Linked DNA regions of Homo sapiens: region 1 is linked to region 2. The links come from fine-mapping of genetic effects on gene expression. Tissue or cell type: monocytes after LPS. Region 2 holds a variant in brackets; the other region holds the start of a gene. All regions are shown on one strand. Distances are from middle to middle.

Region 1 (10,945 bases), 220 kb after region 2:
TTATGAACAATTATATACTTACAAACTAGAAGACCTAGAGGAAATGGATAAATTACTGAAAACATCTCCTGAGATTGAACCAGGAAGAAATAAAACTCCTGAACAGATCAATAGTGAGTAGTGAGATTAAATTAGTAATAAAAATATTCCAGCAAAAAAAACCCAAGACCAGCTGAATTCTACCAAACAAAGAACTAATACAAATCTTCCTGAAACTATACCAAAAAATCAAGGAGTAGGGAATTCTTCCTAACTCATTCGATGAGGCCAGTGTCACCCTGATACCAAAACTAGACAAAGATACAACAAAAAAGAAAACTACAGACCAATATCCCTGATGAATCTAGTCATCCATGACCTTCTTTGTACTGTTGAGTAGCAGTTTCAGGCAACTGCAGAATCTTGTGGAGCAACACTTGAGATTCTGGAGTAGAGAGAGGTTTCTCATTTACATGTACATGTCAGACACAGTCCTGGCCTTGCAGGTAGGGCCTCTGAAGGCTCCACATGGAACGGGAAGAGGCAGAGCTCAACTCAGAATCTTCAGATTTTCCATCTACACAGACTCTTTCTTCTCTGCTCCCCCTTCTCTGGCCTTTGGTTGTTTGAAAAGGAAAATGGCTTAGTGTGGGTGAATGGGTGCGTGTGTGTGTGTGTGTGTGTGTGTGTGTGTGTGAGAGAGAGAGAGAGAGAAAGAGGAGAAAGACTTTCTCTTTCTGAAATATCATCACCTGACCCAATCCTTCTCCTTTTTGCCTTAGCTGTTGGGTTGGGGGAGAAGTTCCCAGTGAGGTTTCTGTGCCTGAGCTTACCATAATTTTATGACTTTCCATTCAAGTTGATAAGGCTTCTAACGCACAAAGTCTGCACGTGGAAAAAGAAAGAATTGTGTTCTTTTGCACTGGTTTTCATTGTGCAAAATGCTTTCTTGCCAAAGTTCTGCTGATGAGGTTTACTCAACAGGGAAGAGTGCAGATTTGTTAGAAGTGGTGGATCTGGCTTCTGGGATGGTCACCTTCTGGAGGTGAGTACCCTGGGGTCTGTAGAGACCTTTTCAGTAGGGCAGCAGAGACAAAGAGCTGCCTTGGAAGTGCTGACTGGCAGAGAAAGACCTGAAGATGAGATGAATGCCCTCGGGGCTTCCTGGGGACTGAGTCCTGAGACTGGGCAGTGCTCTGAGGCCCTAAGTAAATGCCACAGGGAGGAAGGGCTGAATGGGGGACTTTTCTACTAGCAAGTATTCTTTCCATTTGTCAGTGCAAACATTTAATAATGAGACTGTTATCCCCCAGAGCATGCCAGTAATAGATAATTCTTATGGGTAGGCAGTTAGTAAATACAGAGAGAATGACTGAGGATTGTTAAAGATGTATTATTGATTAAAATTTTGTTGATAAATGGCTTACACTGAATATTAGACAAATAACTTTCTGATAAGAGATACACATAAAATAATGGTCAAATTCATCAAAGCATTTCTGTATATAGCCTGTTGGATTTGATAAAATGTCTGTTCAGGGATTATTTCATTTAAGATTAGGAAAACTGCAAAAGTTCAGATGGTAAATGTCACACTGAAAGGAGTAATTAACATTTCTACTTACCTAGGAAAACCTCCTGACTGATTCTGTGTAGTTACTTTCAGCAGGTGTTTAAAGCTTAATTTTAAATTATGTGATTTCAGTAATCTTTTGTTTGAATATAATATTGATGTAGACAGTCATGGGCTAATCTTCAGGGCAAATGTATTGTTATTTAGGTCAACATTTTGTGAGGTGTTTTATATACCTTCAGAGTATCAAAAGTTCTCAGACAGATCTTCATCACATTGGTGAGGAAAATGCTGGCTTATAAGTACAGTGGGGTTGGTATAGCGCAAGGAAGGGCTATAAACCACAAAGTGACTGAGATAGGTCTCAATCTAACAGAAGTTTATTTAGCCAAGGTTGAAGATGCACCTGGGGAAAAAATACAAGCCACAGGAGCATCTATGACCTGTGCTTTTCCCTAAAGGGTTTTAGGAACTTCAGTATTTAAAGGGGAAAGAGCAAGCAGGAAGGTAAAAATGGGAGAGAGAGTAGGACTTCAGGCAGATGGTTATGTTCTTGTGAGGTTCTGATTAGCCTCAGTAAATCTACATCTTACACAAGATAAAGTAAACATGTGGAAAAGCAAGTAGAGGAAATGAGGTGATGCCACAGGATTGTGGATTATAGCTGTTTGGAAATAAATAGAAAGCAGTTTTTTTCCCCCCATGGGTCAGTTCCCAAGCTTAACTTTCCCTTTGGAATAGTGAAGTTTGGGTCCTGAGATTCTATTTTCTTTCACAAGGTTTAGGACAAGCATGCGGGCTGGTGATGGACGCTATGGTTCTTCCATCCTTGGCTATTGTGATTAATGCTGTTACTAACATGGGTGTTTGTTAGCTATTTTTAAAGAAGCAAAATCTCTTTAATTTTTCTTTATTCTAGTGCTTGTATGGTTTAATGTTTTTGCATTTAGATCTGTGATCCATTTGAGGTTTATTTTGAAGTATGGTGTGAGGAATGGATCCAATTATAGCTTCCATCCCCTCCAAATATCTATCTAGTTGTTCTAATGCTATTTATTAAAAATCCATTGTTTCCCAGTGATTTGAGATGCCACCTTTTTCATACACTAAAGTAGGTCTTTTTTTTTGGAATTTCAGTTCTGTCTTTTTGGCCTGCCAGTCTTTTTTTTTTTCTTTCTTGGAATGGTGTCTTGCTCTGTCGCTCAGGCTGGAGTGCATGGTTCACTGAAGCCTCAACCTCGTGGGTTCAACTAATCCTTCCACTTTAGCCTCCCAAGTAGCTGGGACTATAGACACATGCCACCATGCCTGGCTAATTTTAAAATTTTTGTGTAGAGACAGTGTTTCCCTATGTTTCCCAGACCTAATCCCCAATGTGATGGCATTAGGTGGGGCCTTTGGGATGTGATTAGGTCGTAAAAGCTGAGCTCTTTGAATGAGACTAGGTCCCTTGTAAAAGAGACATCAGAGAATTCCCTTGCCCCTTTTGCCATATGTGGACACAGGGAGAGGATGGTTGTCTGTGAACCAGAAAATGGGCCCTAATTAGACACTGAATCTGCTAGTGACTTGATCTTAGACTTCTTAGCCTCTAGACCTGTGAGAAATAAATTTGTTATTTATAAGCCACCCAATTTGTGCTATTTTGTTGTAGCAATCCAAACAAACTAAGTACTGAATGACGTTTAATGAACAAATGAGGAATTGGTTATTTATACTCTGTGGACGTTTATTAAGGCTCTGGCAACACTGTGGAGCTGGCCTGTGTCCCCGAGAAGAAGAGTCAGTCACAGGGGGGTCTCCATCTGATCCAGCAGTTTGAAGCTTCTCATTGTTGTCCTTATCCAGGGCAGGAAACTTGAGACCCTGGTGAAGACTTCTGGAGGAACCCCTGACGACTTTCCATAGGAGACGATGCCGTGGGCCACATTGTTACACAGCAGGGGGCCTCCGGAATCCCCCTGTAGGTAGAGAGGAGAAGGGAGACTGAGACAGGCCTCCCTGCTCCTGCTTCCCTGAGCTCCGGGCTCTCAGGGAAGGCAGGGGTGGGTGGGCCCCTTCAATTGCTGGGTGTGTGTGAGATGGAAGATCGGTGGGGTACAGGAGCCAAGCCTCTGGATCTTTTCGGTCGCTGGACTTCAGCTCTGCCTTAATTACTGTCTCCAGCCCAATCTGAGTCAAGGTACCTCTCCCTTCTCCAGGAGAATGTTGCCTATGTATGTGTTGTGGGTCTTCCTCCTATTCCCCCAGAGACCAGGTTGATGGGGAAAACAATCCCCAGCCCACCCTGGTCTGGCTGCCAGGCTGAGGCTGTGGGGATGGAATCTGTTCGCACTGCCTGGCTCTGCACGGGCCCCTCTCTCCCGGGGTGTGTTGGCCAATGCCCATGCCTTACCTTGAAGGCAGCCTTCCGTTCCCGCCGGTCCCCCACACAAATCTGCCTTCGGGGGTCGTAGGAACCGAAGATGCGGAGGCACTGCCTATCCCTCTGCACTCTCAGCTGCACCTCTCGGAGTGTATCTGTTCCCCTCCTCATGCTGACCCTGCCCCAGCCGGCCACAGTGCACAGCGTCCCGGGTCTCAGTCCCTCCTGGGCTCTAGGCAGAGCCACTGGGTTCACGTTTCGATTCCGTCTGACTCTTCTGCTCAGCTGGAGGAAGAATGTAGGCGTTCCCGCTCAGCTGGGGCCTCCAGCCAAGGCTCGGGGGTCGCTGGTGCAGTACACATCCCATGCCCTCCCCGCCACCCCGGAGCCTTGCCCTCACTTCCTCCTCCATTGTCCCCGGACACACTAGGAAGGAGCCAGAGGGCCAGGTAGGTGGTACCTGCAATAACATGATGTCATTCTGGATGGTCCGCTGATTATATTGAGGGTGGCGGATGGCTCTGCGCGCAGTGATGTGTTGCTGGGTGTTTTCCCGTCTCTGGATATTGTGGGCGCCCAGGGTGACATTTATATTGCTGCAAAAGCAAGAGGTAGGTCTGGGCTGCAGGAGCTATGGTCCACCAGCTCTGCAGGGTAGGCAGACAGCACGGGGAGGGCAAGACTGCAGCTAACCAGAATCGAGGGGATGGGAGGGCCCTGGGGCTCAGCTGTATCCTCTTTCTCAGCAGCTCTGAGCTAGGGATGACAGGGTGGTACTTGCCTTCAGGTTTGCTTCCCCAGATTAAGTTGATAAATAGCCTGAGTTTATATTTTGAGCCCCAATATGTGTCTTCCATCTCTTCCTCTTGCTCTTTTTGATCTTATCCTCCTTTCCTCCTCATTTACACTGGCCTGTTCCCTCCCGCAAAGACTCACTTGGTCTTTCTTTCACCCTTTCATTGCTACAACTCTTCTTTCAGATGGCTCTTCCACCGAAGAGCTCCGCAGGGCTGTGTTCCTGGCTGGCCAGGAAGTTCCTTAGCTCCTCACCTTCCCCAGCAATGAGCTGCTGTCAGCACAAAGTCTTCTCGCACCAGGAACCCTCCACATCTGCTCTGACCTGCTGGACTCTGGATCTGAAGATACGCCATGTAGGGGCGGGAGTGGGGCCTGCTCTCCCGGCCTCCGATGATCTCCCCTGGAAGGAAGCATTTGGCACTTAGCTCTATGCTTGCTGAACCTGCAATGTGGGTACCAGATTGGTGGCTCCAGAAAGGCTGGAAGATGGGGACGGCAGGAGAGAGGGTGCAGGAGAGGGAGGAGATGGTGCTGAGGCTTGGAGTCTATGGGGCAGCAGATTGGGAGGGGGCTCCAGGGTTCTACAGGAAACACTGCTGTCTTGAAAGGAGCCCTTTTCCCCATCCTAGGCCTCACCTCCCTCCTCCTCTCCAAAAGAGGGAGAACAACCCTTGTTCCAGGCAAGGCCAGCTTCAGCCTCAGGTATTGAGGAGAATGCTTTGCTGTAAGTACAGGATTGTTCCTGAAGTTCCCTTATACTTTTATCCTCATGGAGCTTCCCAGAGCCCTCTGAGTCCAATTCAAGACCACGTGGGACTGGTGTTTAAAAATCTAGACATGAGCTGATGGTACTGTTATTGCTGTATTCTTACCTCCTAGGTAGGGTCTGACACATGCTGCCAAATTATTTACACAAAGCATGTTTTTATAGCACTTATAGTGTGCGGGCAATTCCAAGACATTTAAATACTCTAACTTATTTAACTCTCATGGCAACTCTGCAAGATCGGTATTAATATTATTCTCATTTTATAGATGAGGAAACACAAATTCAAATAACTTGCTCAACAGTACAGAATTAGGATATACCAAGGCAATTTGGCTCAAGAATCTATGGGATGAGGTCAGGCCTCTGAGGGTGGGGATGGTCACTCACCTGCCTCAGCCCCAGTGGGTAGGAGAAAGGCCAGCAGAAGCAGGAGTGGCTGCATCTTTCCTGAAAGGCTGCCCAGTCAGTTGCTGCTGTGCTTCCTCCTCCTAGACTTTAAGGCCCTGAGAGAGGAAGGAAGGGGTGGGGACAGGGGATTGAGAATTCACAGTCCCATTCTCCTGCTACCATGAAAGGTTTCATCACCCAAGGCTGCTCAGGAAGTTTGCCCACAAACTGCCGGAGATGTGGGTGAGACCGTGTAATCCAAGCCAACATAGTGAGCTCTTGAGCAGCTGCTAAGTCAGTGCCGAGAGCAGAAATAGGAACCCAGCACAACAAGGAAGGGGCTTGGGGCATTGTGTCCAGAACCCTCAACCCATCAAATTCCAGAATACTCCAGCAAAGCAAGAAAGCTGGCAGCTGCCCACTTCCTGTTTTCTACTCCTCTGGGATTAGATCATTATTGCTTTTGAATTTCTGGGTTTCTCCTAATGAATGCAAGTTCCCTGGATTGCTTATCTGTATATACTTAATAAGTCTGGGACAAGGATGAATGAAAGGGTGTGGTGTGGTGAGGGATGTGGGTAAGAACATCAGGAAAAAGTTGAAGGGGGCAGAAGAGGAAAGGGTAAGCCTGCCTGCTTTCAGTGTTTGGCCCAAGACCACCCTGCTGAGACCCCTGTTGCTCTAATTTCTTTCTAGAAGCTGTCAAGTCAGATTGCGTAGGCACTCTCCTGAGTAGGTGAAGCGTGCGGCTGGAGAAAGAAAAGGAAGAACAAGGCTCTGACAATCACAATTACTTTCTTAGGTCACTTGAGTCCTCAGTGAAAATTGTGACACAATTGAAGACTTCTGCTTGCCTGTCTCCTACCCAAGGTTAAAGTCCTTATGTTCCAGACGGCTCCTTGCTTGCAGAAAAGGCTTAGTAATTTGGTTTTATTGGGAGCTGTCGTATCCTAGCTGGAAAATATCTAATATCCCATTTCACTGGTGACATTAGAGGCCCATCAACCTAATCCCAGGAGCAAAAGCTTCTGAGAAGGAGGTACATTCATTGCTGTGCTACCTATAAAAGAATTAGAGCCGCATACTCAACAATGGGAGAAAAGAACAGCAAATTACTGCAGAGTAACACAATGGATTATTAAAAACACTTAAAATATTTAGAAGATTCTGTGTATGCACAGAAAACCGTTATAATCCAGTATAATTTTTGCAGAAATAGCAGAATTGAAGACTAATACAATTCCCAATCTCTTTTTTTCTGTCTTTTATTTTGAAAATCTTTTACTTAGGTATTTATTTTTAACTTTTATTTTAGGTTTGGGGGTACATGTGAAGGTTTGTTACATAGGTAAACACATGTTACGGGGATTTGTTGTACATATTTATCACCCAGATATTAAGCCCAGCACTCAATAGTTATCTTTTCTGCTCCTCTCCCTCCTCTTACCCCACTGTCTGTTGTTTTCTTCTTTGTGTTCACAGTTCTTATCATTTAGCTCCCACTTATAAGTGAGAACATGTATTATTTGGTTTCCTGCATTAGTTTGCTAACTAACATGTATTATTTGGTTTCCTGCATTAGTTTGCTAATAGCCTCCTGCTCCACCCATGTCCCTGCAAAGGTCATGAGTCCATTCTTTTTTATGACTGCATATGTATATGTACCACAATGTATATGTACCACATTTTCCTTATCTGGTCTATTGACGGGCAGTTAGATTGATTCCGTGTCTTTGCTTTTGTGAATAGTGCTGCCGTGAACATTTGCGTGCATGTGTCTTTATGGTAGAATGATTTATATTCCTCTGGGTAAATATCCAGTGATGGGATTGCTGGATCGAATGGTAGTTCTGCTTTTAGCTCTTTGAAGAATCACCATACTGCTTTCCACAATGGTTGAACTGCTCCCACCAACAGTGTATAAGTGTTCTCTTTTGTCTGCAACTTTGCCAGCATCTGTTATTTTTTGGCTGTTTAGTAATAGCCATTCTGATTGGTGTGAGATACAATTCCCAGTCTTTATGGAGTATAATAGGCCCTCTTGAAAATCTCATGAAAATTAGGGTTCCTTTCCTTATACATAAATATATAATTTTTTCACTTATTTTTAGAGCTGCACAGAGCTTAACCTCTTCTCTTGTACAGGCTCTATAAAACGTCTTTATGCATCTGAAAAGTAACGTGAAGAAGAAGGGAGCAAAGAGAGAATAGTATAGCACCTTTATTAGTGCCTTAGCATTTGGCATAATTTAATTTATTAAAAATTTTCAACATTTTGTTTTGTTTTAAAAATGTTAGTTTAACTTAAAAATAGAAGAAAGGGATAAAGAAAAACCTGCACATATGAAAAAAAAGGAGTAAAATATATGCATTCACTCATGTAATAAAGATTGATTAGGAAATTTCATTAATAGTGACCTAGAATTTCATGCAATCTTCTCATTAAAAGTAATCAAAGCTATTTAAGATATCTAAAAAGCTTACAAACCTCGAAGAACTACCAGCATTGAAGTGACTATCAGATCAAGTTGAAGGAATAATGAGAGTCTAGTTAGGAAGCTGCTATTGTTCCAAGGGAATGTGCTGAATCCACAAAATTTCAACTTTTGTTTTTGATGACCACATTAAGGAGAAATCTGTAGAAAATATTTAAAGTATGCTATATAGTTTCTTCTGAAGAACGGATGCTACCCTTCCCTTTATGGGACTAGCATAACCTCCATGCCAAACCCAATAGAGACAATATAGAAATGAAACATTATAGGTCAATAAACTTTTGAATATTGATGCAAACCAAATCAATCAATAAGCAAATAGATATTAATATATCATAAGTAATTTGGGTTTATTCTAGGAACACATAGTTGACTTTTCATTTGAAAAGCAAAATTGCTGTAACACATCATATGAACTGACTAAAGAAGAAACATCATGTGATTATTTAATTGAAACAATGAAGGCCTAAAATTTACCCTTATTTACTTAAAAAATACTCTTAGCAGACTAGGAATAAAAAGAGTGTCTTTAATCTGATAGAAGTTATCACAAAATTCCCACAGCAATCATTATACCTAATGGAAAAGTGTTAAAACCTTTTTTTGAGAGCAAAACATTACAATAATGCCTGAATACAAATTATTATCAGTTCTGTTCAACAAACAGTACATTAGCAGTTTTAGCCAGTGCAGTTAGGTAGGAAATGGAAATGAAAGGTATAAAGACAGGAAAAGAGAAAACAAAATTGTAATGATTTGAGGAAGTGATAGTATACGTAGACAATCCAAAATCATCTACAGGTAAATTACCATAATTAATAAGAGTTTTACAGATTTGCTAGAAAAAATCAATTTAAAAATTAATCATATTTCTACATGTACTGCAACACTGTTAGAAAGAAATTTTTAGAAAGTAATACTTAAATGGCATGGAAATGATCAAATAACTAAATGTAAATCTAAAAGAATATGTGAAAGACCTCTTTGGTGAAAATTATAAAACTGAATGAAGAGACATTCAAGAAGACCTAAACATGAAGAGATTCCATGTTCATAGATTGGAAGAAGACTAAATATTGTAAAAATGTCAGCTCTCCCAAAATTGATCTATATAGATTCATTGCACCGAGCGGTATTTTATAGAACTTAACTGATTGTAAGTATATTTGGAAAACAAAAGGCTAATGATAGCCAGGTCACCATTAGAGAATGAGAATAAGATGGAAGACTTGCTTTTGCAAACAAAGCCATGGGAATGAAGATAGCGTGGTATTGATGAGGCATAGAAACATGGACTAATGGACCAGAAATAAGGACTCCACACGCATGTGGACGCTGACATACACATGGATGGATTGATTTATGATGGATGTTGCATCTTTCATCATAATAGGGAAAAGACTATTTTCTTTTTTTATCCCCAATAAATGGTACTGGGATAATAAATTGCCTTTATGGTGTCCTATAGAGACAAATATTTTCTATGTGGAAAAATAAAACTTGACCTTCTTCTCCCAAAATATCAAAAAACCTATTCTAGGTAGATTATGGATCCAAGTAGGAATAATGATTTGAATATATAATGGAAGAATATCTTCATGATAGGTAAAGATTTTAGTACTGTATATAAAGTACTAATAATGAAGAAAAGGACTGATGAATTTGACACATCTAAATTGAGAGAAACAAAAGACCATTCATGGAGTAGGCAAAGATGCTTGAAATACACATAAACAACAAAGGGCTTATATTCAAATTACATAAAGAACTCAGAAATCTGGCCAGGTGCAGTGGCTCACCCATGTCCCAGCACTTTGGGAGACCGAGGCGGGTCGATCACTTGAGGTCAGGAGTTGGAGACCAGCCTGACCAACATGGTGAAAACCTGTCTCTACTAGGAACATACACAAAAAAATTAGCCAGGATGGTGGCACATACTTGTAACTTCAGCTACTCGGAAGGCTGAGGCAGGAGAATCGCTTGGGGAACTGGGGAGGCTGAGGTTGCTGTAAGTGGAGATTGCCTCACTGGGCAACAAAGTGAGACTCTCAAAACAAAACAAAACAAAAACTTGCAATGAAGAAGACAATTAACTTAATAAAACAATAGCCAAAAGACTTGAACAGTTTTATCTCAAAACAGGAAATCGAAGTGGTCAATAAACATGAAAAAGTGTTACTCTGACTAGATATTAGAGAAGCACCCATTTGAAGCACAATGAAGGCCACGTATGGTGGCTCATGCCTGTAATCCCAGCACTTTGGGAGGCCAAGGTGAGGGGATCACTTGAGCCCAAGAGTTCGAGACTGTGTGTGATGGCATGTGCCTGTAGTCCCAGCTACTTGGAAGGCTGAAGTGGGAGTTGAGGCTGCAGTGAGCCATGATTGTGCCATTGCATTCCAGCCTGGGTGACAAGACAAGACCCTGTCTCAAGGAAAGAAAAAAGAAAAAAGTGCAATAACAGTTGCAGCTACCATGTTGGCTCTTTTCCCAATCCTAGGTATATACCCTAGAGAAACATCGGGTGCAAATTTCTACCAGATACATGTCCAAGAAGGTCATAGCAGCATGTTCAAGAT
Region 2 (10,945 bases):
CAGTGAGGGAACAGAGTGTGAACTAGGAAGGGAAGAAAGCCAATATGAGGATGTTTTGTTGAGATTGTTATTGTAGGCAGTGGAGGCTCCTTTCCAGTAGAGGCTCCAAATTTAAAGAATGCCTCCCAGAATTGTCCACATGAAGGATGGGAGGCTGGAACATTCATCTGCCAGTGCCTGCACTCATTGGTTGAGGATTGCATCTGGAGGCACTAACTCCCTTGCACTTCTTGGCTGTGTTTGCATTGGAGCTGGAAAGGAGAGGAGTAGTGAGCAAGCTCCCATTGTGTGGGAGAAGGACCTTGTGATGGTTACATTTTATGGGTCTGCTTGGAGGGTGTTTTTGGATGAGATTCAACATCTTAAAAAGTGAATTTTAGGCCGGGCACAGTGGCTCATGCCTGTAATCCCAGAACTTTGGGAGGCTGAGGCAGGCAGATCATGAGGTCAGGAGTTCAAGACCAGCCTGGCCAACATGGTGAAACTCCATCTCTACTAAAAATACAAAAATTAGCCAGGCGTGGGGGCTGGCGCCTGTAATTCCAGCTACTTGGGAGGCTGAGGCAGGAGAATTGCTTCAACCCGGGAGGTGGAGGTTGTAGTGAACTGAGATTGCGCCACTGGGTGACAGAGCAAGACTGTCTCAGAAAAGAAAAGAAAAGAAAAAGTGAACTTTAGGCCATGTGCTGTGGCTCATGACTGTAATTCCAGCACTTTGGGAGGCTGAGGCAGGAGGATTGCTTGAGCCCAGAAGCTTGAGACTAGCCTGGGCCACATAGGGAGACTCTGATTTTGCAAAAATAAATATAAACAAATAAAAAATGAAGAGGTTTAGTAGTGAAGGGAGGGAAAGAGATGGAAGTTAGGTTAAGTATAAAGAACGATCAAGGGAATTATCCATGCTGTCTACGATACCTGCCTGTTATTCACTTAGTGTTGGTATTCGTAATCAGATCGACTGTCCGGGTATCTCAGTGCTTGTGTTCAAGTAATCTTTATTTTACTTAATAATGGCCCCAAAGCAAAGAGTAGTGTTGCTAACAATTTGGATATGCCAACAAGAAACCATAAAGTGCTGCTTTAAGTGAAAATGTGTTAGCTGGGTGTGGTGGCGTACATCTGTAGTCCCAGCTACTTGGGAGGCTGAGGTGGGAGGATCGCTTGAGCCCAGGAGAACAAAGCTACAAGGAGCTGTGATCCCACCACTGCACTCCAGCCTGGGTGGCAGAGTGAGACCCTGTCTAATAAAAGAAAAGAAAATGTAACTTTGGCGTTCTTTGGCTGGAGTTTGGTGCTATCTGTGGTTTCAGGTCTCCACTAGGGGTCTTGGAACATATCCCCACAGATAAGGGGGAATATCGTATCTCTCTTTTGCCAGCTGGCATAGTGTTAAGCGCTGTCAGTAGTGGGTGCTGGAGGAACACTGGAGCAGGAAGAAGTCCATCTTCCTGGTTTTGGTTTGCTCCTTTGCCTTACTCCTGCAGCGTGTGCAATTTCTTCAGTGTACACTCAGGCAGTGCAAAGTGGTCAGCAGTGCCTAGCAGCCAAAAGCTTCCCCTGGCACATTTCTGGGTGACTTCTCAGCCTGTTGCAACTGCTAAGGCACCTCCCCATGAATAACTTGCTTTGGCATCTGCTTGGCCAATTTCACAGCTATTTCAGCCCTAGGAGTAGTGGGTTTTTCTTAAATTTGCTGTTCCTGTGTCCTTTGGAATTCTCATTTCTTCTTACTAGCTAATCCCTTAGTATGCCAACACCCTGTTGGAGTTAATGCTTCTTTATTTTATTTTTGCAAATAAAAATATGAGACACTCCATGAATTTGCATGTCATCCTTGTGCAGGGGCCATCCTATTCTTCTCTGTATCATTTTAGTATATGTGTTGCCAAAGTGAGCACAATACTTGTTTATATTAAACGTTCCTGTTTCAAATGACTGTGTGGTTTCTGTGTCCTGATTAAACCCTGACCGATACAGCTTTAGTCCTAGAATATAGTTCTTCAGGGACGCTAACGATATCCTGTGGTGTTTAACAGGTCCTTCCTCCTTAACAGGTCCTAAATTCCCATTTTTGTTTTCTCAGGACTGTAGACTACTGAAAGTTCTTCTCAGCCTCCTACCTCTTAGGCACTATCTCCTGCTGAGTCTGGCTGCCTCTCACAAATCGATAAATATCCCCCATGGGACAGACCATGCAGAATGTTGGCCTCACCTCAACATGCTTTCCCTTTCTTCTGGGACGTTGGCCCTTCAAAGCCTCCTGCCTTGATGAATTTCCACTGTCTTCAAACATATTTAAAAAAATTTGTACCCAGCTATGCAAAGGCATACAGAGTGGTATAATGGATATTGGAGACTCAGATGTGGGAAGGGTGGGAGCGGGGCGAGGAATAAAAAGCTATATATTGGGTACGTTGTACACTATTTGGGTGACAGGTGCACTAAAATCTCAGACTTCACAATTATACAATTCATTCATGTAACCCAAAACCACTTGTACCCCAAAAGCTACTGAAATAAAAATTTTTTTAATAACTGTACCCAGCTTTTGTAGTTGCTCTCAGAGGGTTGATCTGATGCAAATTAGTTGATCATGGTGAAGTCGGCTAGAGATAACTACAGATGGATAAAATGTTTGTGGAGCAGCAGCGAGGGTCCAGCCGAAGTTAGAAAGCAGTGATTTATTATGGAATCAATCATCATGATTGTGAAACTTTCTCCAGACCAGGAGGCAGAGAAATGCATGCTTGGCTTACCTCAGTTTGAGAAGTGATGGAAAGTTAAGGGCTGAGGAAATCTTGATTGCTTGTGAAAACACTTTTGAAATGGCTCACGTGGATCCCAGGTTGGACAGGGAGAGCACTAACGCTGGAATAGGGGGTTGTTAGTCTAGGAGAATAAAGTAATGGAAATCAGAATTGGTGAGGAGAGAGCAGGGCACAGAAACTCAAGGTTTGGGTCAAAAAGGGGAATTTCAAGGCTGGGCACAGTGGCTCTCGCCTGTAATCTCAGGACTTTGGGAGGCTGACGCGGGTGGATCATGAGGTCAGGAGTTCAAGACTAGCCTGGCCAAGATAGTGAAACCCTGTCTCTACTAAAAATACAAAAATTAGCCAGGCGTGGTGGCACATGCCTGTAATCCCAGCTACTTGGGAGGCTGAGGCAGAGAATTGCTTGAACCCAGGAGGCGGAATTTGCAGTGAGCTGAGATCACACCACTGCACTCCAGCCTCGGTGACAGAGCGAGACTCTATCTCAAAAAAAAAAAAAAAGTGTAATTTCAGAGTTTGGTAGTATGGAATGGAGCATTCCTAAACCCTGGTAAGTGGACAGTATGTTGCGTATTTTAAATTATAGATGTAAGGGTCATTAGATCGAGGAACATAACCTGGAGTATTGGAATAGCCTTAGTCCCCAGGTGGCTGGTAGGGATGAGGTAGAGAGACACCCTGAGCCAGGGGCCAAAGTCCACCAGAGGAGTCCTTTAGGTTGTCAGGTGGCCATGACTCAGATAGGGACAGGGTGGCATGAGTGAATGAAATGAGTGGCACAACCTTCAGAGGAGTTTCTAAGTGAAAATGATCAAGAGTGATTCTGAAAGCTGCTATGAGGCCATGGAAAGGAAAACTCCACTTTCTTCTCTGTTATGTGAAAGGATGGCCTGTCTGTGCAAAGGTTATGAGAGAATGTCCAGGTCTCAGGTAAGGTGAGAGGGAGGAAGTTTTGACTGAAAGATTTGGAGAAACAAGAAGTTACACCAATAGAACAGGGATCCGCAAGGTAGAAGGGGCAAGGTAAGAGGTTGAGATTGTTCCTGGGGAGAAGCAGGGATGGAGGAGAGAAGACAGCAGGCTGCATGATGGCGAATCATGCGGGAGAAGGAAGTATGTTAATATGAGCTAGAAGGGAGGAATAGCCTCCCTCCCTCCCTCTCCCCCTCCCTCCCTCCCTCCCTCCCTTCCTTCCTTCCTTCCCTCCTTCCTTTCTTCCTTCCTTCCTCCTTCCCTCCTCCCTCATTCAGCAAATATTTATTAACCACATGGAAAGCACAAGGCACTCTGTTATGCAATAGGGAAAGACACAGATGAATCAGAAATAGATTCTGCCCTTAGTTTACATTCTGAGAAGTGACATGATTTTGTTTTAAAGACATAACCTCTTTTGCTTGTTTAGTTTGTAAGTTTCCTTTCTATCTATTAGTTCATATGATGTGAATCTCTGTGGGAATCTACCTTTCTTTAAGGAAGCCACACTAATTAACTCTTTATAACAGGGAGAAAATAGAAGAAAGAATAAAAGTTATGATTATTTCTATTTGAAACAAGAAGAGGAGGCCAGGCATGGTGACTCATGCCTATAATCCCAGCATTTTGGGAGGCCGAGGTGGGTGGATCACCTGAGGTCAGGAGTTTGAGACCAGCCTGGCCAACATGGGGAAGCCCTGTCTCTGCTGAAGCATACAAAAAATTAGCCCAGCGTGGTGGCGCACACCTGTAATCCCAGCTACTCAGGAGGCTGAGGTGGGAGGATCTCTCTCTTTTTTTCTTTTCTTTTCTTTTTTTTTTTTTTTTGAGAGAGAGTCTCACTCTGTCGCCCAGGCTGGAGTGCAGTGGCACGATCTCAGCTCACTGCAACCTCTGCCTCCTGGGTTCAAGCTATTCTCCTGCCTCAGCCTCCCGAGTAGCTGGGATTACAGGCATGCACCACCACATCCAGTTAATTTTTGTATTTTTAGTAGAGATGGGGTTTCACCATGTTGGCCAGGCTGGTGTTGAACTCCTGACCTCAGGTGATTCACCCACCTTGGCCTCCCAAAGTGCTGGGATTGCGGTGTTCCAGGTGGCCAGGTGGGAGGATTTCTTGAGCCCAGGAGGTGGAGGTTGCAGTGAGCCAAGATTACGCCACTGTACTCCAGCCGGGGCGACAGAGTGAGATTCTTTCTCAATAAATAAATAAATAAGCAGGAAGAGGAAATGTAAGGGAAGGAGGTAACACTTTATTCATTGGACACTCAAGCAGAAAACGGAACGAAAGACACCACCCTCATGTCGGCCATTGGACAGGTTGGTAACTGGTAGTTTGCTTCTGTTTTTGTTTTCTTCTACCTTGTCTTTGACCAGCCCCTTAGCTGGCTGCTGTGTTTTGTTGCTGCTATACTTAGCAGGGTGGCCTACCTTCATTCTGGAGGGTTTTGAGCACTTGACAGTCCTTCCTATGTAGGCTTGTAGCAATCTTCTGCTAACCCTCAGCAGTGGGCATGGTGGGAAGCACTTAGAGGAGTGCCTGGAGTTTCAGGCATACCCTTTTGGGCTCTACTGCTTAGTAGTAACCTTTTTTCCCCATGATGGTTGGGGTCAATCACAGTAGACCTAAACAATACTGTGACATATTTTTGTTTTTCTTGTTTTGCCAGTTACTTAATTATTTAATTAAATTTATTTATTTATTTATTTTGAGATGGGGTCTTGCTGTTGCCCAGGCTGGAGGGTGGTGGCATTACCATAGCTCACTGCGGCCTCAGCCTCCTGGCTTAGGCAAACCTAGTGCCTCAGCCTCCCAAGTAGCTGGGACTACAGGCATGTGCCACCACGTCTGGCTAATTAAAAAAAAAATTTTTGTAGAGACAGGGTCTCACTATGTTGCCCAGGCTGGTCTTGAACTTCTGGGCTCAAATGATCCTCCCACTTCAGCCTCACAAAGTGCTAGGATTACAGGAATGCACCAGCATACCTGGCCTGCCAGTTCCTTTAATGGTACAAGGCCTAAAATGGGCAGTGGTAGGGGAACCACTCTCGAGTCCCCTGTGCAAGTAGTTATTCCTTGAATTGTAAAATCTCTAGAGAGTCATAGGGATTCGAAGCAAAACTGTGGAGATTGGGTCGGTGACAGCATTTGTAGAGATGAGACCACCCCTTGTGTATTCCTTTCCTATTGCTGCTGTAACAAATAACCATAAACTTAGTGGCTTAAAACAACACAAATGTATTATCTTACAGTTCTGTAGGACAGAAGTTCAACACTGGCCTCACTGGGCTAAAATCAGGCATTGACAGGGCTGTGGTCCTTCTGGAGGCTTTAGGAGAGAATCTGTTTCCTTGCCTTTCCAGCTCTTAGAAGCCACCCACATTCCTTGACTCATGGCCTCTTCCTAGATTTTCAAAGCCAGCAACTCTGCATCTCTCTGTGACTTTTTTTCCCACAGACACAGCTCCGCCTGACTGTCTTCTGTTGCCTCCCATTCCACTATCTTTTTTTTTTTTTTTTTTTTCGGAGATGGAGTCTCCAGCCTGGAGTGCAAGTGGCACGATCTCTGCTCACTGCAGCTTCTGCCTCCCGGGTTCAAGTGATTATCTGGCCTCAGACTCCCAAGTAGCTGGGACTACAGGCACGCATCACTACGCCTGGCTAATTTTTGTATTTTGGGTAGAGATGGGGTTTCACTGTTTGCCAGGCTGGTCTTGGTCTCCTGACCTCAAATGATTCACCTGCCTTGGCCTCCCAAAGGGCTGGGATTACAGGTGTGAGCCACCGCCCCCAGCCTATATATATATATAAATATACACACATATATATATACACACACATATATATACATACATATATATACATATATACACATATATACATATATACACACA[TATATATAC/T]ATATATACATATATACATATATACATATATACATATATATATACATAGATACATATATACATATATATATATACATAGATATATATTTTTTTTTTTAAGAGATGAGGTCTTGCTATGTTGACTGGGCTGGTCTTGAACTCCTGACCCCAAGCAATCCTCCTGCCCTGACCTCCTGAGTAGCTGGGATTATAGACATGAGCACTCAGTTTCCCCTTGTACTTTTTAGGACACTTGTGATTATATTAGGCTCATCCAGATAACTCAAGATAATCCCCCATCTCAAGGCCCTTAACTTAATCACATTTACAAAGTTCCTTTTGCCATGTAAGATAACATATTTATAGGTTTTTGGGAACTAAAACGGGAATATCTAATAATTGGGGGTTGGGGGTGGGCCATTATTCTGTCTGCCAAATCTTATTTCTTACAACCACGTATTCTGGTATTGGTTAAACAATCATATATATTAGTCACTAGATGAAAGTACAATGCACATTTAACCTCAGTATAGTATCTCACTGATGGTAAATTAAATGATTACTTAATTTTGCCACTCTATAGATAGGACTGTATGCACCAAAACCTCAGAGGATGTATGGGGCATTTGGAATTGGATAGGGGGGAAAGATTGAGCTTTTGCCCAATGAGACTCCTTCCACATTCCATCAAGGAAAGCTAGATGAGATCCTGAAGGACCAGGTAACAGTTCCTATGGAACACTTTAAAGATGATGAGGAATGTGGGATTCTAGGGCTGAATTTTTGTTTCCAATGGCATTGGATAGCTAAAGGTGAGAGAATAAAAATGTTAAACTCAGAATATCCACCTCAAAGCCCGGAAGAAAATAAAGCACCATTGCCTGGCACCCTTCTCTCTGCAGATATCAGCTAAAAACTGAATTCAGAAATTGATCTTGCACTGTAATCCCAGCACTTTGGGAGGCCGAGGCGGGAGGATCACTTGAGGTCAGGAGTTTGAGACCAGCCTGGCCAACATGGTGAAACCCCATCTCTATTAAAAATACAAAATTTAGCTGGGCGTGGTGGCAGGTGCCTGTAGCCCCAGCTACTCAGGAGGCTGAGGCAGGAGAATCGCTTGAACCCAGGAGGCAGAGGCTGCAGTGAGCCGAGATCACACCACTGCATTCCAGCCTGGGTGACAGAGCCAGACTCCGTCTCAAAAAAAAAAAAGAAGAAGAAATTGATCTTGCAAGTTGTTGAATTGCAGCAAAGTTTACAACCTCACCAGTTTTTTGCAGTGAAAGTAAGAATAATGATCTGGGGCTGGGCATGGAGGCTCATGCCTGTAATCCCAGCACTTTGGGAGGCCCAGGGGGGTGGATCATGAGTTCAAGACCAGCCTGGACAAGAGGTGAAAACCTGTCTCTCCTAAAAATACAAAAACTTAGCCGGGCATGGTGGCGGGCGCCTTTAATCCCAGCTACTTGGGAGGCTGAGGCAGAGAATGTCTTGAACCTGGGAGGCAGAGGTTACAGTGAGCTGAGATCGCGCCACTGCACTCCAGCCTGGGTGACAGAGCGAGACAATAAATATAGTCCCTGTTGAAACAATTTTCACTGTTTTCTTCTTGCAGAGGAGAGAGCGAAATCTGCTTTGCTATTATAGCTCAATTCCTTAGGCTCATCCTCTGACTAGGATAAACCAGAAGGTGGGAAGCAAAAACATCAAAATAAACAGGAATGATGCCCAGAAGGAGCCATGGGAACTTTCTAAGGCAAAATCTGGAGAATTCTATGTGACCATGAACATGAATGTTACGTGGTCATGAATTTAATTGGATCATGGATTTTATCCAAAAAGACAGAACATAATTTTAGAGTGGACCAAATTAATTGCACTAATGGTCTACAATGTATATTTCAAGTGCTTGGCCCACAACAAAGCTCAACATCTGCCCTTTTAAAAGTTTCAATGGGGTCGGGTGTGGTGGCTCACACTTGTAATCCCAGCACTTTAGGAGGCCAAGGAGGGCGGATCACTTGAGGTCAGGAGTTTGAGACCCAGCCTGGCCAACATGGTGAAACCCCGTCTCTACTAAAAATACAAAAATTAGCTGGGCGTGGTGGCACACAGCTGTAATCCCAGCTACTTGGGAGGCTGAGACAGGAGAATCGTTTGAACCTGAGAGGCAGATTTTGTGGTGAGCCAAGATCGTGCCAATGCACTCCAGCCTGGGCCACAGAGTGAGACTCTGTCTCAAAAATAAATAAATAAAAATAAAAATAAAAATAAAAAAACTCATTGGTCTTGCCTTTTGCCTGATGGTCCAGGAGAAGCATAGTTATTGCTGACACTAAGACCTAAGAGAAAAAGTGTCCCTGATCACAGAGTGAGCACTCTGAGTAGTTGCCATAGGTAACCATAAACAACATCTTTAAAATAGATAACAGTGAATCTCACAGAGCTGTTTCTTTTTAACTATGAAAAGAACTTGTTTTGTTCTGTGTAGTACAGAATGAGGGTAATTATGTAGTAGATCAAGAATATCCTACAGTACATGTAAAAATCCTGTGCATGTACTTCGTAAATCTAAAACAAACATTAAAATTATTTTTAAAAAAAGAAGAAAAAAGAATATCCTATAGTAGAAGAAAGAGACAAAAGAGAAAATATTGGTAACTGGAATCTATGGGTAATCCCAAAACCCCATTTCCCTAGTTTGCAGAGGCTGCTAGTTGAGTCCAACAACCTTTCTCGCCATCTTCCTTAGTAATAGATCCTGTCATTTTTTAGCCAGACATACGTCAACTTGGAATAAATACATTTTCTAGCCTCTGTTGCAGCTATATGTGGCCATGTGACTAAATTCTGGCCAATCGATAGTAAATATAAATGGTGTGTGGGGGAAGAGAGTTTGCATTTTTCTGCTTTTTCTCTTCTTGTTGGTTTAAACATGGATGTGACGGCTGCACCATAAGTGGTCATCTCCCATGCAGTGGGATGCTAAGGATGGTGCAGCAGTAAGACAGGAGGAGGTTGATAAGACCATATCTTGTCAACTTTTCAATCGTCAATCATGATCTTCATCAATCTTTGTATCCCAGAGCCTAGCATGGTGTATGGCACATAATAGATGTTCAATAAATGTAAGAGACTGAATATACAGATGGAAAATGGCCATATATAAAAATAGAACCCTGACCCACAATATGCAGCAATTAGTCCAAGAAACTAACCCATTATCTATCATGACCAGCCCAGGAAGCCAACTGCCTAAAAGTCATGCCTGTAATCCTGGCCCTTTGGGAGGCCGAGGTGGTCAGATCATCTGAGGTCAGGAGCTCGAGACCGGCCTGGCCAACCTGGTGAAACCCTGTCTCTATTAAAAACATGAAAAATTAACCAGGAGTGGTGGCAGGCACCTGTAGTCCCAGCTACTCAGGAGGCTGAAACAGGAGAATCGCTTGAACCCAGGGGGCAGAGGTTGCAGTGAGCCAAGATTATGCCACTGAAATCCAGCCTGGGTGACAAAGCGAGACTCTGTCTCAAAAAAAAAAAAAAAAAAAGTCAGACTTGTGAAAAGTCAGATCACTATCTCTAGCAACCAGCCCAGGAATCCAAACAACAACCCTTGCAAAAATCTGCTCCAAAGAGCCAGGACTTGATTAATAACTGACAGCTTTTTAAATTTTTGTCCCCTCTTCCAACTTAGGATCAATCAGAGAAAGCCAAATATGCATTCCTAACCAATCTTGTATGATGCACCATTTCTATAATATTTTTTTCTTTACTCCATTTTGCGGGTGAAATGATGCCCCACTTCTAGTTAGGCCACACATGACTTCCCCATGCCACAGCCTCCAGTCAGGGCATACCTGAAGCCTTCCCTTTGTCCACTATAAAGCTTTCCCACTCCTCTGCCTGCTTTTGAGTTTCTGCCAAAATGCAAGTGATGGTGGCTGACTAACTTGTGATAGAGAGCTCTGAATAAATAGTATTTGCCTGTTTTCATTGGTTAGCCTTCATTTATTTCCACAGGTATTTGCTAATTAGATCAATCAAAAAGTAAAGATGTAGGTAGAGAAATAAGACAAGGTACCTCTCATTAGAGAATTGCCACTCTAGTGGGGTACTCAGACATTAAATAAGTACTTACACAGTTATTTATTTATTTTGAGACAGAGTCTCACTCTGTCACACAGGCTGGAGTGCAATGGCATGACCTCAGCTCACTGTAATCTCTGCCTCCTGGGCTCAAGTGATCACCTGCCTCAGCTTCCCAAGTAGCTGGGACTACATGTGTGCACCACCATGCCCGGCTAATTTTTATATTTTTTG

The links. PIP is the estimated chance that this variant, and not a neighbour inherited with it, causes the effect. A credible set is the group of variants that fine-mapping cannot tell apart.
Region 1: CTSG starts here. The variant in region 2 is the best candidate, but not a certain one, in a credible set for the expression of CTSG in monocytes after LPS (Kim-Hellmuth 2017, PIP 0.82).

What each region holds. Positions count from the first base shown.
Region 1 is chr14:24,570,298-24,581,242 of GRCh38, forward strand. CTSG (cathepsin G) reads right to left here and starts at 5,953. Exons shown (of 5, transcript NM_001911.3): 1 at 5,872-5,953; 2 at 4,968-5,115; 3 at 4,378-4,513; 4 at 3,948-4,202; 5 at 3,221-3,513. The coding sequence starts at 5,926. The coding sequence ends at 3,340.
Region 2 is chr14:24,350,260-24,361,204 of GRCh38, forward strand. It overlaps the pseudogene LOC124903413. Among named protein-coding and RNA genes, the nearest start is that of NFATC4, 12 kb to the right of the region's middle. The variant TATATATAC/T (reference allele first, on the strand shown) is at 6,639.